Regions from separate parts of the Homo sapiens genome. Here all the other regions are linked to region 3. The links come from fine-mapping of genetic effects on gene expression. A gene starts in region 3. Each other region holds a variant in brackets. All regions are shown on one strand. Distances are from middle to middle. Region 1 overlaps IQSEC2 (IQ motif and Sec7 domain ArfGEF 2). Region 2 has its middle 22 kb from the start of MIR6895. Region 3 holds the start of KANTR (KANTR integral membrane protein).

The links. PIP is the estimated chance that this variant, and not a neighbour inherited with it, causes the effect.
Region 1: its variant is the best candidate, but not a certain one, in a credible set for the expression of KANTR in stomach (GTEx, PIP 0.80).
Region 2: its variant is the best candidate, but not a certain one, in a credible set for the expression of KANTR in whole blood (TOPMed, PIP 0.86).

Annotation. Positions count from the first base shown.
Region 1 is chrX:53,234,236-53,240,556 of GRCh38, reverse strand. It overlaps IQSEC2 (IQ motif and Sec7 domain ArfGEF 2), which reads left to right. Exons shown (of 15, transcript NM_001111125.3): 11 at 1,263-1,362; 12 at 2,251-2,412; 13 at 4,062-4,235; 14 at 4,725-4,774; 15 at 5,373-6,321. Among named protein-coding and RNA genes, the nearest start is that of KDM5C, 12 kb to the right of the region's middle. The variant A/G (reference allele first, on the strand shown) is at 3,904.
Region 2 is chrX:53,170,674-53,177,277 of GRCh38, reverse strand. It overlaps a transcript of KDM5C not described here. Among named protein-coding and RNA genes, the nearest start is that of MIR6895, 22 kb to the left of the region's middle. The variant T/C (reference allele first, on the strand shown) is at 3,245.
Region 3 is chrX:53,090,598-53,097,201 of GRCh38, reverse strand. KANTR (KANTR integral membrane protein) reads right to left here and starts at 3,060. Exons shown (of 3, transcript NM_001397448.1): 1 at 2,918-3,060. RefSeq lists a silencer at 2,732-2,881 and enhancers at 2,942-3,061, 3,372-3,431, 3,144-3,968.

The DNA.
Region 1 (6,321 bases), 140 kb before region 3:
GTGGGTTTCTTCCAGCCATCTGCACTCAACCCTTGGCATCACAAAGAACAAGTGTTGTACCTCTGCTCCAAGACAGCTCTCCAGGGATTTGAGGACTCTCTTGATCCTGTTCTCCCTGTGGTCTTCTCTCCTTTAGAGCAGGGTTTCTCAGTCTCATCACTGTTGACATTTGGGGCTGGATAATTCTTTGCGGGGACTGTCCTGTGCACTGTAGGATGTTTAGCAGCACCCTGGTCTCTACCTACTAGGTGCTAGTAGCAACCCTTCAACCAAAAATGTCTCCAGATGTTGCTCCGTGTCCTCTGGGGGCAATATCACCCCCAGTTGAGCATTGCTGCTTTAGCCGAAGTATTTCCATGCTCCCTCTGAGCCTTAGTTTCCTCCTCTGTGAAATGGAACTAACCCCTACTTCACAGGATTGTCATGAGGATGAAATGAAATAAGAGGTTATATGTGGAATCTGCCCTACCCCAGGGAGTACCTGGCCCACACAGTCAATGTGTAGACATCCCTCAGGTACTGAAACTGGTGTATGTCCAGCTCTATGCTAGGCACTGGGTATGCCAGGATGAATCAGACTTAGTCCCTGTTCTCAGGGAGCTCACAGCCCAAAGGACCTAAAAAAGTGCTTTGCGTCATTGTGCCATCCTGAAATCAAAACATTTCCTTTTACGAGCCACTTGCAGACCGCCTGAGGTGTTTGCAGCCTGTGTTAGTTGAGTCCAGAGTGCCCAAGTACTCGACAAAGATATTGGGTTGTTGAGAGGAAGACTTATTAACTCTCTACATGGGTTCAGCAGAGATTGCCATTAAGTGCAGGCTCTGGTAAGGCCTGGTGACAGAACCCGACAACCAGACTCCTGCCCTCCAGTCCAGCAGGGGGCGATCACACACTCAGAGGACTAGCATAGTGCCTGACAAGGGAAAGGCACTGAATCACCATTCTGGAGCTCAGAAAAGGGGTTTACAAATCTCTGTGGGATGTTGGAGCAGGCTTCCTGGAGGAAGCAGGATTCAGTTAGTTTCTGGAAATGTGGTAAATGTCTGTGGTGCGTGGTCATTACATCAGGAACTTGCGTTTTCTTCCATGTCTCCCATTCTGTCCCTCAAGCTTCCATTCTCCCCAGCTTGTGGGCATGTGTGTTTGTGTGTGTGTGTCTGTTAATGGGGTGGGAGGGGAGGGTGGTTACCAGAAATAGGTGCCACGTGGAAATCCCCCACCCAAAGCGCTGCCTCTTGTCTTTTTCCCACCCCTGCCAAAGGTCACCAAAATTTTCCAGAAGAAGAAGATCTTGGTGACGTACAGTTTCCGTCAGTCTTTCCCCCTCGTGGAAATGCACATGCAGCTCTTCCAGAATTCATGTGAGTCCCTTCTTGGATCCCAGCTCCTGAGAGTCTATGTCATGGCCCCCATGCTCACCCGTCATCTATACCAGCTCCAGTTTTCGGAGTCCCTTACAACCGGACTAAGGGTCTCCAAAGCACCTACTTGGTCCCAGGATGAGGGGCAGGCCAGGGTGGAGTATGACTTGGGTCTAGCCCCTGGTTAGCTCATGGTCTTGCAGAGAACCACAGTGCATGTGTTCTCTGGTGGGCCAAAGAGACGGTGATCATGCTGTGCTCTGAAGGATGAACCAGGAGGAGCTTTGTTGCGTGGTATTCCTGGCAGCAGAAGCAATGTGAGTTGAGGCAGAGGTGAGAAGGAAAGGGTTTCGAGAGAGCAGTGCATAGTTGTGTGCCTTTACATCCTGCAGTACAGGGAGTAAGAGGGCCACAGCTACCAGGAGTTTGAGGGCTTTGGGGCAAAGGGGAGCTGCTAAACATGCTCAAGCAGAGAAGAGGCATGATCAGAGTTAGACAGTAGAAAAATTATTTCATGGGCTAGGCATGGTGGCTCACACCTGTAATCCCAGCACTTTGGGAGGCCAAGGCAAGAGGATCGCTTGAGCCCAGGAATTCGAAACCAGCCTGGGCAACATAGTGAGACCCCATCTCTACTGAAAATAAAAAAAAATCTGCGCATGTGGTGCGTGCCCATGGTCCCAGCTACCCAGGAGGCTGAGGCAGAAGGATCACTTGAGCCCAGGAGTTCAAGGCTGCAGTGAGCCATGATGGCACCACTGCACTCCAGCCTGGGTGACAGAGAGATGTTGTCTCAGAAAAAAAAGAGCAGAAAAGAAAAATTATTTTATGTATGAGCCACCTTGCACCAGTCCCAACAGAGGTGCCCAGTCTCCCCTTTCTCCACAGATTACCAGTTTGGGATCAAGTTGCTGTCTGCAGTACCTGGTGGGGAGCGAAAAGTCCTCATCATCTTCAATGCCCCCAGCCTCCAGGACCGGCTGCGCTTTACATCCGACCTGCGCGAGTCCATTGCGGAGGTGCAGGAGATGGAGAAATACCGTGTGGAGTGTGAGTAGCCCAGCCATGTCTCCTCCCTGCTCTCCTGAAACAGTACCCTGCAGAAACCAAGAATCCTATCCTCAGAGAATCTCAGAGTTGAGGGTTAGCTTGTCCAACCTTCCCATCCTCATTTCAAGAATTCTTCAGCCTCTGCTTGAATACCTTCAGTGACAAGGGGCTCATTACCTCCCAACCCCATTATTATCCTGAACTCTAATTATGAGCCAACTATTCCTTCTAGTGAAAGGTATCAGGGAGAAGAATCAGAGTATTGGAGGTAGGACTATAGTTTTAGATCCCAGGTATACTACTCATTATCTGGGTGAACTGCAGCAAATTGCCTAACCTGCCAAGCCCCAGTTTCTTCCTATACGAAATTGGGGTAATGAAGTCTCCTTCACAGAGTCATGGAGATGAAATGAGACAAGGTAGCCGAAATGTCCCAACACATCTTAGGCATTCAAAAAATCCGTATTTCCTGTCCCACCCTCTCTCCTCCTCTGCCCACATATCAATTCCTGAGCTGAATCCCAGTGGGCTATCCTCTCAGCCCCCAGGGGCCACACCAAGTCATTTTGATCATATATATATAATGGAAAATAGTGATTACATCTCATTCCTCCCGATGCCCTCCAAGTTTTCTCTTCTCCAGGCTAAGCAGTCACAGTTAAGTAACATGGTGTTAAGGAGAAAGAGGCAGGCAGACAGAGACGAGGCGGCGGACAGCTCCTTGGTGAGGCCTTCACAGCTCCAGGGCCACTCTACTTCTCAGCGAGGCAGGGATAGAAATTTCAGTTCACCAGATCCTTTGAGACCCTGGGGAAATCCTGAGAGAGGGATTAGTAGCCCAAGACGAGGGGAGGCCAGTAGACACGTGTTTCTATGAGCTCCGTGGGGAGGTGGGGCTGTAGGAGGCCGGAAGCACCCAAGCTCTGGAATCAGGCAGACCTGCTTCCAGAATGTCGGCTCTGCCATTTCCAGCTGTATGACCCTGGGCAAGCTCTAAGACTTCTCGGATACTCAGTTTCTTCCTCTGCACAATGTGGATGCTAATACTGACCTCAGAACTGTTGTGAGGACTGAGAGAGATCAAGTATGTGTAGCGCCCAGCATACTGCCTGGCACATAATAAGAGGATTTGATTCCTGTCAGTTTCCTGCTCCTGCCCTTCCAGGAGCCCCTCTGCTCCGGAGCAAGGTATCTGAGAACTGACTGAACTCTGGAAAGATTGCCCTTTGCCATAGGCTAGAAGGGCCTTACCATCCTTACTGTGAACCATCTGCCATGAAGCTCTTTTTTGAAGGGCAGGGGTGCTTTGGGAGACCTGATTGCAAGAGGGCATGGGAGGGGAGAAGTCAGAAGGGTGAAAGGAAGGGAAAGGGAACAGGGAGAGCAGGCACCAAGAGGGATGAAGGGAAGGCTGAGCAGGAAGGGAGGGTGCAAGACAGGAGCTGGGCACTAAGGGTGCTTCGGTGATGGAGCTGCAGTTTTGGGGGAGAC[A/G]AGGGCTGGTCGTCCAAGGGGCAAAACACGAAGCCTGGGGACAGAGGGAGGGAGGAGGGAGGAGGAAGGAGAATGGCCCATGGAGGGCTAGGGTCAGTCAGATGGGCTCTCACTCCTGTTCCTGACCTTTGCTCCCTGTCTCCCCGACTGCCACCCAGCGGAGCTGGAGAAGCAGAAAGGTATGATGCGGCCTAACGCCTCACAGCCTGGAGGGGCCAAGGACTCAGTGAATGGGACGATGGCCCGCAGTAGCCTGGAGGACACTTACGGGGCAGGCGATGGGCTCAAACGGGGCGCACTCAGCAGTTCCCTGCGAGACCTCTCTGATGCAGGTAAGCCCTCTGGGCCCCTGCCCTGGCTGGGGAGACACGGGACCGGGTGTCCTCTTTGCCTCCTGTCACTGGCCGCCAGCCTTCCCTCCACCTGCCACACATGCACGCACCCTGCCTTCACCCAGAGCCCTGGGCGCTGCGCCACAGGGGGCCTGGGAGCCAGGTCAGAGCAGGGGGAGCCCAGCTTTTGGGCCAGGGAGTGTGAAGTGGGGCCACAGTCTTGGTCCCTCTCTCTCGCTGCTCCCCCTCTCCTCCTCTTCTCCCTCTTCTGTCTCTCCTGTACCTCCACTCCTCCTTCTCCATCTTTTCCTCCTCTTTCTCCTCCTTCTCCACCTCTCCTCCTCCCCGCCTCCCCCTCTTCAATGGGGGAAAGGGATAATGGGGTGTCTGTCCCCGGGAGGGGCCCAGTCCTGGTGCCCAGCTCTGGAGCCCAGCAGGGTAGGGGGGGGGTTGCTGCTCTGACGCTGGGCTCCTTGCTTGTGGGTGCAGGGAAGCGGGGGCGGCGTAACAGCGTGGGATCGCTGGACAGCACCATCGAAGTAAGTGCCAGCTCCTGCCCCACTCGTCCTCTGCATGAGCCCTGCCCCGGCCATGGAGACCCAGAGGAGGAGGGGACCTGTTGCTCCCCCTCTTCCCTGCTGGGAACCATGCGGCTGCCTCTCCCAGCCAACCACTCTCTCCATCTGTCCTCAACTCTGTCTGTCCTCATTCTGCCTGTCTCTCAGTCTGTCTTCCACTCTCCCGTGCCCCCTCTCAACCCCAGGGCCGACGGCGAGTAGGGATGCCCTTGGAGTTGGGCCACGAGAAGCTCTTACCTCCAAGTCCTGCTCTTTGACCCTGGGCGAGTCACTCTGCCTCTCTGGGCCTAACCTTTTCCCTGCCTGCAAAATGGGGATGAGGAGGAGGTACTGCTAATTTCTCCTCTCCCAGCTGAGGCTCAGCTGAGATAGTGGATGTGACAGCCGAGCTTTGCAAGCTGGGGAGCTCCACATACGCGTACCGGACTGTGATTTGGTTTTTATTACAACTTGGGGTTTGCTGTCTCCCCAGCTCCAGCCCTCAGGGACAGGGGTGGAATTTAGGGCTGGGGGTTTAGGGCATCTAGCCTGGCCTGACTTCCCCCCTCCCCGCTTCCAGGGGTCTGTTATTAGCAGTCCACGCCCTCACCAGAGGATGCCACCTCCGCCCCCACCCCCGCCGCCAGAGGAGTACAAGAGCCAGAGGCCCGTCTCCAACTCCTCATCCTTCCTGGGCTCCCTATTTGGAAGCAAGCGGGGCAAGGGGCCCTTCCAGATGCCACCACCGCCAACAGGCCAGGCCTCTGCCTCCTCTTCATCTGCTTCTTCCACGCACCACCACCACCACCACCACCATCATGGCCATAGCCACGGTGGCCTGGGGGTGCTGCCTGATGGGCAGTCCAAGCTCCAGGCCCTGCATGCCCAGTATTGCCAAGGACCGGGCCCTGCCCCGCCACCCTACCTCCCACCCCAGCAGCCCTCTCTTCCCCCACCTCCCCAGCAGCCCCCACCCTTGCCCCAGCTGGGCTCCATTCCACCGCCTCCCGCCTCAGCCCCACCTGTGGGGCCACATCGCCACTTCCACGCCCATGGCCCAGTCCCAGGGCCCCAACACTATACCTTGGGCCGGCCAGGCAGGGCACCCAGACGGGGGGCTGGAGGACACCCTCAGTTTGCTCCACATGGCCGCCACCCCCTGCACCAGCCCACATCCCCACTGCCCCTGTACAGTCCTGCCCCCCAGCACCCTCCAGCCCACAAACAGGGCCCTAAGCACTTCATCTTCAGCCACCACCCACAGATGATGCCAGCAGCAGGCGCGGCTGGGGGCCCTGGATCCCGGCCACCAGGGGGCTCCTACTCCCACCCCCACCACCCCCAGTCACCATTGTCACCACACTCACCCATCCCACCCCACCCCTCCTATCCACCCCTCCCCCCACCCTCCCCTCACACCCCGCACTCACCCCTTCCACCCACCTCCCCCCATGGCCCGCTGCACGCCTCTGGGCCCCCTGGCACAGCCAACCCCCCCAGTGCAAACCCCAAGGCCAAGCCAAGCCGGA
Region 2 (6,604 bases), 80 kb before region 3:
TCCCGAGTAGCTGGGCCTACAGGCATACACCACCACACCTGGCTAATTTTTATTTTTTTCAAAGCAGGAGTGAAAGTTTATTTAAAAGCTTTAGAACAGTAAGGAAAGGAAAGAAAAGAAGGAAAGTACAACTTGGAAGAGGGCTAAGTGGGTGACTTGAGAAACCAAGTGCACCTAATTTGAATTTTTTTTGTAGAGATAGAGTTTTGCTCTGTTGCCCAGTCTGGTCTCTAACTTCCAGCCTCAAGTGATCCTTCCATCTTGGCCTCACAAAGTGCTGGGATTACAGGTGTGAGCCACCACACCCGACCAAAATATATCTTTTAATAGTTAGATTGTTTGATTCAGGATCCAAACATTGACTTTTATGGTCACCACTTCCTTACTTTTCTTTAACATTTTACCACTTAAGCATGACTTCCTATTTGTGTAGTTTAGTTTTGCCTGTTTTTATTAACATCATAGAGTCGTACAGTATGTATTCTCTTGTGTTTGGTTTCTTTCATTCAACATTATGCTTTTAAGATTGATCCACGTTTTAACATATAGCTGTGCTTTATCTTCTTGCCTGTATAGTATTGAAATCAACCCAGTTTTTGCACTAAACTGAAAATTGAGAAACTTATATTTGTTTTTATCTGAGTTCCTTTCTCAGGAAACCAACCATCAGGCCTCCCAGAGAGAATCGAGGAACTGAAATCTCCCATATCACCACATCCAGACAATGAGACATGGCTGCTGCCTGTTGACAAACTCCTCTTCTTTATACCTCCCGAATTTCTGTTTTCCTGCATATGGTTACGGTGAGACACCAGACCCCTCATCCAACCACCTGCTGCCCGTTGACCAACTCCTCTTCCTTACTCCTCCCTAATTCTTGTTTTACGTTCCTTCCCTACTATATAAACCCCTAACTTTAGTCAATTGGAGAGATGGATTTGAGACTGGTCTCCCATCTCCTGGCTGACATTACTGGCATTAAAGCTGTTCTTCCCTGGCAATATTCATCTCAGTGATTGGCTTTCTGTGCGGCAAGCAACCAGGCCTAGGCTGAACCCCTGGTGTTCGGCAACAGTATTTCATTTTATGAATCTACCATAATCTGTCAACTCTACTTTTGAAAGGCATTTGGAACATTCTGATATTTAACTGTATAAACAATGCTGCAAGAACATTTTTGTACATATTTCCTGGTATACATAAGCAGACTTTTTTTTGTTTTGTTTTAAGACAGAGTCTTGCTCTGTCGCCCAGGCTGGAGTACAGTGGTGCAATCTCAGCTCACTGCAACCTCCACCTCCCAGGTTCAAGCCATTCTCCTGCCTCAGCCTCCCGAGTAGCTGGGACTACAGGTGTGCACCACCACACCCAGCTAATTTTTGTATTTGTAGTAGAGATGGGGTTTCACCATGTTGACCAGGCTGGTCTCGAACTCCTGACCTCAGGTGATTTGCCCACCTTGGCCTCCCAAAGTGCTGGGATTACAGGCATGAGCCACCGCACCCGGCCCTAAGCATACATTTCCGTAGGGTGTATGACTTATTGGGACAAAAGGTATGCACATCTTTAACTTTTCTAGCTAGTGTCAAACTTTTCTGAAGAAGTAGTTTTACTAATGTATATTCCAACCAGCAGAGTATGAAAGGTCCTATTATTCCACATATTTCCCAACCCTTGGAACAGTCAATTTTAAATTTTTGCCAAGCTGAGGATTGTAAAATGGTATCTCATGTGTGTTAAACAGGCATTTTCCTGATAATTAATGAAGTTGAGCACCTTTAATATTTTTTTCTTTTTAGAGACAGGGTCTTGCTCTGTTGCCCAGGCTGGAGTGCAGTAGCATGATCACAGCTCACTGCAGCCTTGAACTACAGGGCTGGGCTCAGGCAGTCCTCCTGCCTCAGGCTCCTAAGCAGCTGGGACTACAGGCATGCCACCATCATGCCTGGATATTAAAAAAAAAATTTGTAGAGATGGTCTCACTATGTTGCCCAGGCTGGTCTTCAACTCCTGGTCTCAACTGATCCTCCCACCTGGGCTTCCCAAGTTGCTGGGATTGCAGGCATGAGCCAGCACACCAGGCCTACCTTTTCATATTTTTTTACTGGCCATTCAAGTACTCTCTTGTAAAACTGTTCAACTCTTTCACATATTTTTCTATTGATTATCTATCTTTCTCTTGTTGAATTGTAGAACTTCATCTTACGATCTGGATATGGAATCTGATTTTAAGTGATGCAAACAAATTTTCCCATTTTGTGGTTTTCCTTTGTACCATTTATGGTGTCTCTGGGTGAAGAAGTTATTATTTTTGACGGAGTCAATTTTATCAGTCCTTTCTTTTCATGGTTTGTACTTTTGGTGTCTTGTTTAAGAAATCTTTTACCATCCCAGGCCCAGCGCGGTGGCTCATGCCTGTAATCCCAAGACTTTGGGAGGCCAAGGTGGGAGGATCACTTGAGGCCAGGAGTTTGAGACCAGCCTGGGCAATGTAGCAAGACCTCCCATCTCTATTTTTTAAAAAATAAATACTTTACTATTCTAATGTCAAGAATATACCCCATTTGTTACTTTCTTTGCTTTTCACACTTAGGTCTATAATCTACCTGGGAATCATTTGAGTTTTAAAAAATATATAATGTGACGTAAATACCCAATTTAGCTTTAGTTATTTATTATTATTTTTTTAACTGGGCACCCAATTGTCCCAGCACCATTTGTTGAAAAGACTGCCCTGCTCCCATGGCTCTACAGAGACACATTTTTGATAAATCAAGTATGCGAATATGCATGGATTCATCCTTCTTTTCTTTTTTCTTTTTTTTTGATGGAGTCTCGCTCTGTCACCCAGGCTGGAGTGCAGTGGCACAATCTCAGCTCACTGCAACCTCCGCCTCCCGGGTTCAAGCAATTCTTCTGCCTCAGCCTCCCAAGTAGCTGGGATTACAGGCACCTGCCATCACACCTGGCTAATTTTTGTATTTTTAGTACAGTCGGATTAGTAGAGTCGGAGTTTCACCATGTTTGCCAGGCTGGTCTCGAACTCCTGACCTCAAGTCATCCTCCTGCCTTGGCCTCCTAAAGTGCTGGGATTACAGGCGTGAGCCACCATGCCCGGCTGCCAGTACTACACTCTTAATTACTATAGCTTTATTTTTTTAAAAAACCCTTAACATCTGAGAGATCAAGTCCTCCATCATAGTTCTTCTTCAGGAGTCATGGCTATTCTTAACTTTTTCATTTC[T/C]ATTAATATATACATTTTAGAATCAGTCAAGTTCCACCAAAAGAAACAAACCAACCAACCCACCCATCAGGGTTTAATTGGAATCACATTGAATCTGTAGAGCTACTTGGGGAGAACTGGCATTCTTGTAATACTGAGTTCAGCAGCTTATGCATGTGAATATGGTATCTCACTTCATTTATTTACATCTTTTTTTTTTTTTTTGAGACAGAGTCTCACTCTGTCACCCAGGCTGGAGTGCAGTGGTGTGATCATGTCTCACTGCAGCCTTGACCTCCCAGGCTCAAGTGATCCCACCTTAGCCTCCCAAGTAGCTGGGACTATAGGTGCGTGACACCACACCCAGCTAATTAAAAAAAAATTTGTAGAGACAAGGTCTCACTCTGTTGCCGAGGCTAATGTTGAACTCCTGGGCTCAAGTGATCCTCCCGCGTTGGCCTCCCAAAGTGCTGGGATTACAGGCGTTATTTACTCTTTTTTTTTTCTTTTTCTTTTTTTGAGACAGTGTCTTACTCTGTCACCTAGGTTAGAGTGCAATAGTGCGATCTTAGCTCACTACAACCTCCGCCTCCCAGGCTCAAGTGATCCTCCTGCCACAGCTTCCCAAGTAGTTGGGACTACAAGCATACACCACCATACCTGGCTAATTTTTGTATTTTTTGCAGAGACAGGGCTTCACCATGTTGCCCAGGGTGGTCTTTTTTTTTTGAGATGAAGTTTCACTCTTGTCGCCCAGGATGGAGTGCAATGGCTCGATCCTGGCTCACTGCAACCTCTGCCTCCCGGATTCAAGTGATTCTTTTCTCTCAGCCTCCCGAGTAGCTGGGATTATAGGTGCACACCACCACGCCCAACTGATTTTTGTATTTTTAGTAGAGACGGGGTTTCACCATGTTGGCCAGGCTGGTCTCAAACTCCTGACCTCAGGTGATCCTCCTGCCTCGGCCTCCCAAATTACTGGGATTACGGGAGTGAGCCACCATGCCCGGCATTGGTCATCTTCCTTAATCTCTCTTTTGCAAGTGCTATAGTTTTCTCCAGAAAGGATTTACACATTGTCTGTTAGATTTATTCCTGGGATTTCTAGGTAAGTGATTTTTTAATGCTATTTAAATAATTTAATTTTTTGTTTTTCAGCTGTATTTGTTTTTATATAGAAATACAATAGAATTTCGTAAGCTGATTTTGTATTCAGCAAACTTTATTCCTGGGATATTTACCTCCATTCTTCAAATATTTTCTTTATTTATTTATGATTATACTCTAAGGCTATTATCAAAATGCGGACATTTCTCCATTTCTCTTGTTTTTTAAATTATTGTTTTCTATATTTTTATTCTTTCCTGCTGCTTTCTGGGAGAGGTCCTCAATCTGATCTCCCAATTCACTTATTCATTCTTCATCTGTGGTCAACCTGCTATTTGTCCCATCTATTGTGTTCTTTCTTTCAACTATATATTTTTCATAGCTAATATTTTCACTTTTCTGTGTCTGAAGGAAGGTGAAGGAAGACCCCAGAGAAGGTGGTGATGAACTGTCTGGAGAGATGAGTAGGGGTTTCTCAGGTTGTGAGAAGGAGGAGAATCCACCTCAGCAGTAGCTAAGGCCTAGAAACCAGACGGTGGGGCCCAGCTTGTCCTGCTGGGAACGGCTGGGGCACTGGAAGTAAGATGGGAGGGAGATCAGGTGGAGAAATGCAAGGCTTTATAGGGCCAGGGTCACTGGGGGTACCCTGACTTGCGACCCCCGCAGACTGTGATGGCCTCCAGAAAGACGGCAGCTTCAAGGCAGTGTTGGTCACCCAGTCCTCTGAGGTGAAGAGACCCACCCGCCCCCACCACCACATCATGCTCCAGCTCCATCCCCCTTTCCCCAGGGCACCTGCCAGAAGGTCCTCCCTCCCACCCTCCCTCCCTCCCTCTTCTTCCTCTCTTTTCTTTCTTTCCTCTTTTTCTTTTTTCTTTCTTCTTTTCTTCTATTTCTTCTTTTTATTTCTTTTTCTTTTCTTTCTTCTTTCCTTTCTTTTCTCTCTTCCTCTCTCTTTCTTTTTGAGACCGAGTCTCACTCTGTTGCCCAGGCTGGAGTGCAGTGGCACAATCTTGGCTCACTGCAACCTCCACCTCCCAGGTTCAAGTGATTCTCCTGCCTCAGCCTCCCAAGTAGCTGGGATTACAGACGCCCACCACCATGCCCGGCTAATTTTTAAATTTTTAGTAGAGACGGGGTTTCACCACGTTGGCCAGGCTGGTCTCGAACTCCTGACCTCAGGTGATCCACCTGCCTCGGCCTCCCAAAATGCTAGGATTACAGGCGCGAGCCACACTGTGCCCGGCCCCATCCTGTCTTTCTTGAGGAGGCAGGTTAAGTGGAGAAGGGGACCTAGTCCAGAGGGGTTTAGGAGCTCAGGTTGGCTACTGAGGGACTCAAGCTCTGGAGATGCCTTCAGGGCCAGTCTCCTCTCTGGCCATTTTATTTCCCCAACTACCACCAGGAGGTGCTGCTGGGATTGAACCCCTTCCTGCCCTTTACCTGGCATTTAGGCCTCATTCTCTTCTGAGGGCCTCCCTTCATCTCCCTGCCCTTGGTACGATGGCATCCCGTTTGGTCCTGGGATCAGCTCCAAATAGGAAGGCAGGTAAACAGCCAGACCTTTCCGCTAGACTAAGGCTTAAGGCCAGGCCAAGTCAGCGCCTGTGCATCCATTACTTCCTGCCACCCCTAATTGCAGACATCAGAGTCCCCAGCTGGGCCCGTCCTGCTATGTGGCCTATGTGGCTACCTGCTCAACCTGTAGCCTGGCTTGGGACAACCCCAATACTGATCCCTCTACATAACCAACCATTGCAGACCAAAAACAGAGGCCCAAGGGAGCAGAAAGGATCCCAGGAGGAGCAGGCACATTGAGGGGTACTCAGATGGGAAGGGCCACCCGCCCAGGAACTGCTGAACTGCCTGGGTGCAAGACCTCCCTGTGTCTCAGTGGAGACATCCCTCTGGCTGTTTCTCTGACTCTATTTGGAGGGAGTTTGAGGGTGATGAGAAGGATGGGAAGGGGGCTTGGTAAAAACGTGTTACTTTGTATTTATTTCATATAGTTATTACAAAAAAGAAAATACGCGCTGTTAGAGAATACAGTAAATCTTTAATTTGTATAAATATTTAAATAAACTTCATATTTTTCATGACATACTTGAGCATCTTCTATGAATATGCATTTTATATAAGGTTTTATGCTGGAAACAGCTATACACAATTTCTGATCAAGACTTTTTACTCATGATCTCTTCAAATTCTTGACTATTAATGAGAAATGATTGTTGTTCACACAGGTGGTGGTAAGTGGAAAAGGAGAATTTACCT
Region 3 (6,604 bases):
AAGCCAGGCTGCTACTTAAGCAATGGTTCTCACTGAGAGGTGGGGGCTGGACAATTAAAGGGTGTTTCAGGGCATTTTTTCTTTTTTTTGAGACGAAGTTTCGCTCTTGTTGCCCAGGCTGGCTCACTGCAACCCCTGCCTCCTGGGTTCAAGCGATTCTCCTGCCTCAGCCTTCCGAGTAGCTGGGATTACAGGCATGTGCCACCATGTGGGCCTGGCTAATTTTTGTATTATTAGTAGAGACGGGGTTTTACCATGTTGGCCAGGCTGGTCTTGAACTCCTGACCTCAGGTGATCCACCCACCTCGGCCTCCCAAAGTGCTGGGATTACAGGTGTGAGCCACAGTGCCCGACCCATTTTTTACTGCTTTTTTTTTTGAGACAGGGTCTCGCTGTCACCCAGGCTGGAGTGCAGTGGTGCAATCCTGGCTCACTGTAACCTCTGCCTCCTGGGCTCAAGCAATCCTCCCATCTCAGCCTCCTAAGTAGCTGGGACCACAGGCGTGCACCACAACACCCGGCTAATTTTTGTATTTTTTGTAGAGACGGGGTTTCATCATGTTGGCCAGGCTGGTCTCGAACTCCTGGACTCAAGCGATCTGCCCACCTTGGCCTCCCAAAGTGCTGGGATTACAGGCGTGAGCCATCACACCCGGCCCTGTTTGGGGGGCATTTTTGACTGTGACAATAATTGGAGATCATCAGTGACAACCCTAGCTATGGACCAGGGATGCTCAGCCCTCTGCAGTGTACAGGACAGCTCCACACCACAAAGAATCATACCACATTCCATACAACTTTAGAATATCTCACCAGTAATGTAGGTGAAAAACCTGTTCATTTGTTCTTTTATTCATTCAACAAACATTCATTGAGAAAGTCTACTAGGTGTCAAGCACTATTTTAGGTAATAGGAATGTATCATAGAACAAAAAAGACAAAAATCCCTGCCCTTCTGGAGCTTATAATTGAGTGGGAGAGTCAGACAATAAACAGCAAACATACTAAGCAGTTAATGCTACACTGTGAAAAAGGTGTAGAATACCATGGAACAGACAGAGCAGGGGCATATTAGGGGAGAGCTGCAATTTTAAACAGGATGGTTGGGGGGCCCTCTGAGAAAGTGACAGCTGAGTAGAGGCCTGAAGGAAGCAAGGGCCTGAGCCTTGTGGGTATTTGAGGAAAGAGCATTCCAGATACACGGAATGCAAAACCCCTGAGGCGGAAGTGTGCCTAAGGTGTTCAAGTAATAGTAAGGTGGCCAGCATGGGTAGATAGAGTGAGCAAGGGGGGAGAGTGGTGGGAGATAAGGTCAGGGAGATTAAGAGGGTCTCATCATGGATATTAATATATACTGATTTTTCCAGAAATTTAACGACCATATAAACTGAGAAACTCTTCCACATTGTTTTGTTTAGAACTTTGTGAAGAATTGTTCATTATTTAGGAAAACTGTGTCACTCTACCTGTGGCTTCTGAATCACCAATCAACACACATGTAGCTGTCACTATCATTAAGTGTAAGACCATTTCATCATGTCTTCTAATGGAGTCATATCCCAGTCTTTGCATATATATGTGCGATATATGTATAATATAATATTATATATTACTCTTCCTTTACTACTCTCTATATTACAATTAGGGCATTATATTGGTTTTCAGGGAATTATGGGTGTAGACAGATTCTATTTTCTATCCATTTCATTTTAGAATAGTGAAGCATTTCAAAATACACCTTATTAAAAAAAAAAAGCAATGTTGGGTCCAACAGGTATGAGAACGACCAAAGCATAGCAAGAAAATAAAGGGAGTATTCAGAAGCCAGGATGAGAATGGAGGGAATTTTGCTGATAACTGAAGGTGAGTTCCTTAAGGCCTGGTCAAAGGATTTCAGGATGGAAATAGAAAATAGGATGTCCAGGGCTGTATGGAGACATAACCAGGAGATCTGTGGGCTTCCTGTGGTGACTAACATTATATAGGATAAGGGGCTATTAAAAAGTGGTTTTTAATCTAAGTTGCTCCCAACTTTGGGTGTCTCTACCTGTTTAACAGAGTAGGCTGGGGAGCAAAGAGAGTTCTCTCTTCAATGACACCAGAAGCAACCCAAAGCCAGGCTCCATTTTTTACCCACAGAACAGGTCGGAGCCCCAGGCTAAGCTCATGTCCTCGGGGGTAAAACTTATTGCTATAAACTATGCACCTCTAACCTCTTTAGGGTTGAGAAAGAGACGGGTAAAAAGAGGAAAAACAGTAACAGAGAAAGACAGAAGCATTCAGAAAGATCCAATGGAGGAAGGGTCAGAGACAGAGAAAAGACAGAAACCAAGAGAGACAATATTCTTTTCAGTCAAGATAGTCATTATTTATTGAAAATTTTCTAAGGACCGGGTGCAGGGCAAAGTAATGCACATGCATTGTCTCAGGTACACATTATCAGACCCCCATTTGGCAGATGAGGAAACTGAGGCCCAGGCTGGTGAAGGAGATAGCTCAAGGTTTCATAGCTAGTTTAAACTGGTCAGGATTCAGCATCTTATATCTACTACGTCTCAAAAAGTGGGACAGAGACAGAGATGGGAGAGGGGATGCAAAGACAGACACGCACGCAGACGATCACGTGAGCGGCAGACCTGCATGGAACCGTTTCGAAAGACACTGAGGGTGGGAGGTGGGGCCGCGGGAGGGCAGCAACGGGCACCGACCGCTCCGCAGGGTACTCACCTGGTTGCAGTCTGGGAGCCGCAGGAGCACTCGGCTTCCCTTTGCGACCCGCACGATCCTCCGCAACCCGCTGACCTAGGGTTGAGAGGCCGCCCCAGTAAAAGCTCGCGCAGGCCCCACCCCTCGCGCGCTTCGGCCGGCCTCTTCCCGCTGCCACTCCCCCCACCGCCCCGTCTTTATGGCTTCTCACCGTACACCTCCGGCCGTCGCCGCCGCCGCCCCTGCCGCGCGCGCACAGACACCAGAGGCCTACAGCAAGATCTGAAGGATACGCTGGACGGAACCCTTCCACGGGCTGCAGCGCGAGCAGGGGCACGGGCCTACGCCGCTACCGACGGCTCCCCGGCTCCCATTGGAGGAGTGCCCTTCTGCCTTTCCAGGGATTGGCTGGGGATGGAAACATTTTATTTTTACCCCCGAGGCTTAGAGCCAAACCGAGGAAAACTCCGCCCCTTCGGGGGACTTTGATTGGTTAAAGAGCCAAGCCCACCCTTTAATAGGATTGGCCAGGAAAGGAGTGCTTGTCATGGCCCTTTGCCTGTCTATTCGACAGGTCTTCAGGCGGCTACTTGGGAATACGCAGGCGGGAAGCCGGAAGCCACGCCAGGCGCCGAGTCACTGCACAATCGAGATGCCTGGCTTCTTTGACGTTTTACTCTCCATAAGCCACCTTGCACTGCCACCGCTCTGCTAAGAGACGCGATTCTGCCCCTAGTTTCTCACAGTTCCACACCCACCTGCAGAGATTCCTAAGCCAGGTTTCTCTCGCTCAAAGTGAGCAGAGTTCCTTATTCCATGCATGGAGGATGAGGTGGCTATGGGGATGTGGCGTGTCACCTACCAGTCCCTGATACCTGCTGAGACATTGGTCAAGTGACAACCTCGCTAGGAGCCTCAGTTTAACCATCTGGAAATGGAAAGATGTTTTAAAATTTTCCTCACAATGTGTGAGGATTAAATGAGAGGGCAAATATAGATCAGTTGCCTGGGGCATAAATAATTAAGTTCTCTCCTCCCAATTCTTTCCCAGTATTCAGGCGGACAGAACTTATGGCCCAGAGAGGCAAACTGACTGGCTTGAAGTCACACAGCCAGGCCCCACCCCTCGCGCGCTCCGGCCCTGCCTCTTCCCGCTACCACTCCCCACCACCGCCCCGTCTTTGCGTCTTCTTACCGTACACCGCCGGCAGTCGGCGCAGTAAGACCCAGAATAAAACCCAGGCTTCCAAAGGAAAACTGTTTAAGAAGGAAGGAGAGATGGGAAGGACCCTCCTATTTGCAAGGGTTCTTAATTTGTATTCTGCAGACCTCTAATCGAGGCTGGGGACAGGGTTTGGAGAGGTCCATGAATTTGGATGGGAACAAATTTACACCTTTATGGCCGGGCGCAGTGACTCATGCCTGTAATCCCAGCACTTTGGGAGGCCGAGGCGGGCGGATCACCTGAGGTCGGAGTTCGAGACCAGCCTGACCAACATGGAGAAACCCCATCTCTACTAAAAATACAAAATTAGCCGGGCGTGGTGGCACATGCCTGTAATCCCAGCTACTAGGGAGGCTGAGGCAGGAGAATCGCTTGAACCTGGGAGGCGAAGGTTGCCGTGAGCTGAGATCGTACCATTGCACTCCAGCCTGGGCAACAAGATTGAAACTCCGTCTCAAAAAAATAAAACAAAATTACATCTTTATTTTCCCTCTCCTCTAACTGAAATTTAGCATTTTTCAATAAAGAATGTAACTAGGCATAGTAGCAGCAGTAGTAGCAGTACTGATTGTCACTAATAGAAATCAGAGATTTTCATATCACATTATAGATGTTGCAGATCTCTTGAAAATCATATAATTTCAATCATTATTTTAAAATCATGATAGTCATTAGACCCTCCATTAAATCTTATGATTTAATGGATTAATGGGGAGTACATATACGATTATACTATAGCACATATTTGCTTTTTCCATATTTTAATAACTATATTTCAATGTAATCAATTTCTTTTGTAATTCTAGATATTTTATTTTATGAATTTAAACAATTTTTTTTTTCTGAGAAAAGGTCTGGTGGGGCATGGTGGCTCATGCCTGTAATCCCAGAACTTTGGGAGGTCGGAGGCGGGTGAATCACCTGAGGTCAGGAGTTCCCGACCAGCCTGGCCAACATGGTGAAACCCTGTCTCTACTAAAAATACAAAAATTAGCCGGGCGTGGTGGCGGGCGCCTGTAATCCCAGCTACTCGGGAGGCTGAGGCAGGAGAATTGCTTGAACCCAGGAGGTGGAGGTTGCAGTGAGCCGAGATCGCACCATTGCACTCCAGCCTGAGCAACAAGAGTGAGACTCCATCTAAAAAAAAAAAAAAAAAAGAAAAGAAAAGAAAAAGAAAGGTCCCATTAGGCTTCACTAGATCACCAAAGGGGTCCATGGCACAAAAAATATTAAGAATATTTGTCTTGAACTCTAGGCTCCAGGAGGAAAAAGACTTGCTCTATTGGCTGGGTGCGGTGGCTCACGCCTGTAATCCCAGGACTTTGGGAGGCCGAGGCGGGCTGATCATGAGGTCAGGAGATCGAGACCATCCTGGCTAACATGGTGAAACCCCGTCTCTATTAAAAATACAAAAAATTAGCCGGGCGTGGTGGCAGGCGCCTGTAGTCCCAGCTACTCGGGAGGCTGAGGCAGGAGAATGGCGTGAACCCGGCAGGCGGAGCTTGCAGTGAGCGGAGATTGTGCCACTGCACTCCAGGCTGGGCAACAAAGAAAAAAAAAAAAAGACTTGCTCTATCTTGTTTCCCTGCTGTATCCCTATCACCCAGTTCAGTACTTCAGGCACACAGTAAGTACTCATAAGTGTTTACTGAATGAATAATAGGATTCCTTCCCAACCATCCTGCACACCCCCAACTGGGGGAGCCAGTGCCAGCCCTTTGGGTCACCTAAGGAGGGACATTCTTGAATCTAGTTTTGTCCCTGCCAATCCGATTCTACTCACAGAAGTAGGTGGCACTTTAAAGGTCTGGTCCCAGGAAATCCCAGGAACCTCCCACCCAGGAGCAGGGCCCTCTGCTGCAAAGGAGCGAGGGCAAGCTAGGAAGCATATGAAGACAAGTAGTTTCAACATGGGAACAGGCCCTAGGGCACATTGGGCCCATGACTCTTCATCCTCCTGGTTTCTGTTTAAGGTCTCAGCCAATGGGGCCTGTCTTCTCTGGCCTTCAGCGAAGACAGTATCTTGGAGCTAGATGTGACCTTAAAGACCTAGAACAGCCCTCTCTTTCGGAGGTCCAGACTGAAGAGTGAGGGCACAGGGAACAAGATGTTACTCTGGGCAAAGAACATCCTGTCCTCACATGGCTCAGCCGAGGACATGAGCACCCTGGCCAACTATACTAGAATACTATGATTGACTCTTAAGAGCATCACTGAAGATGAAGACCAGAGGCCCTCTCTAACAGGGTGGGTGAAGAAGAGTCTCAAATGCCAGGATGAGGGGCTGGGGATTTGATTGGGGGGACAGAGAGGAATCAGGGAAGAGCACAGTGAAGGCCAGACTTCAGAGACCTGCTTCAAGGCTAGACTCTGTCTTGAGACCTTAGGCAGGTTGCTTCTCCTGGACTGATCCCCCTGCACGATAAGCCTCAGTTTATAGATAGGAAAACTGAGGCCCTCTAGAGAGGACAAGGAGAGTCATGTTGTGAGGTAGGGCAGACTGAGGCAAGAGTAACCAGACTGGCTACTCTGGCTCTGATTGGCTGGGATCCTTTGGCAGGCTGACCTCTTTCTGGCCTACTCCGGCCTACTCCATTGCCTTTGCCCCTGCTGCTTTCCCCTCCCCTCCTCTTCACCGCATACTCATTGGGGTTGGCTCCAGATATTGCATGT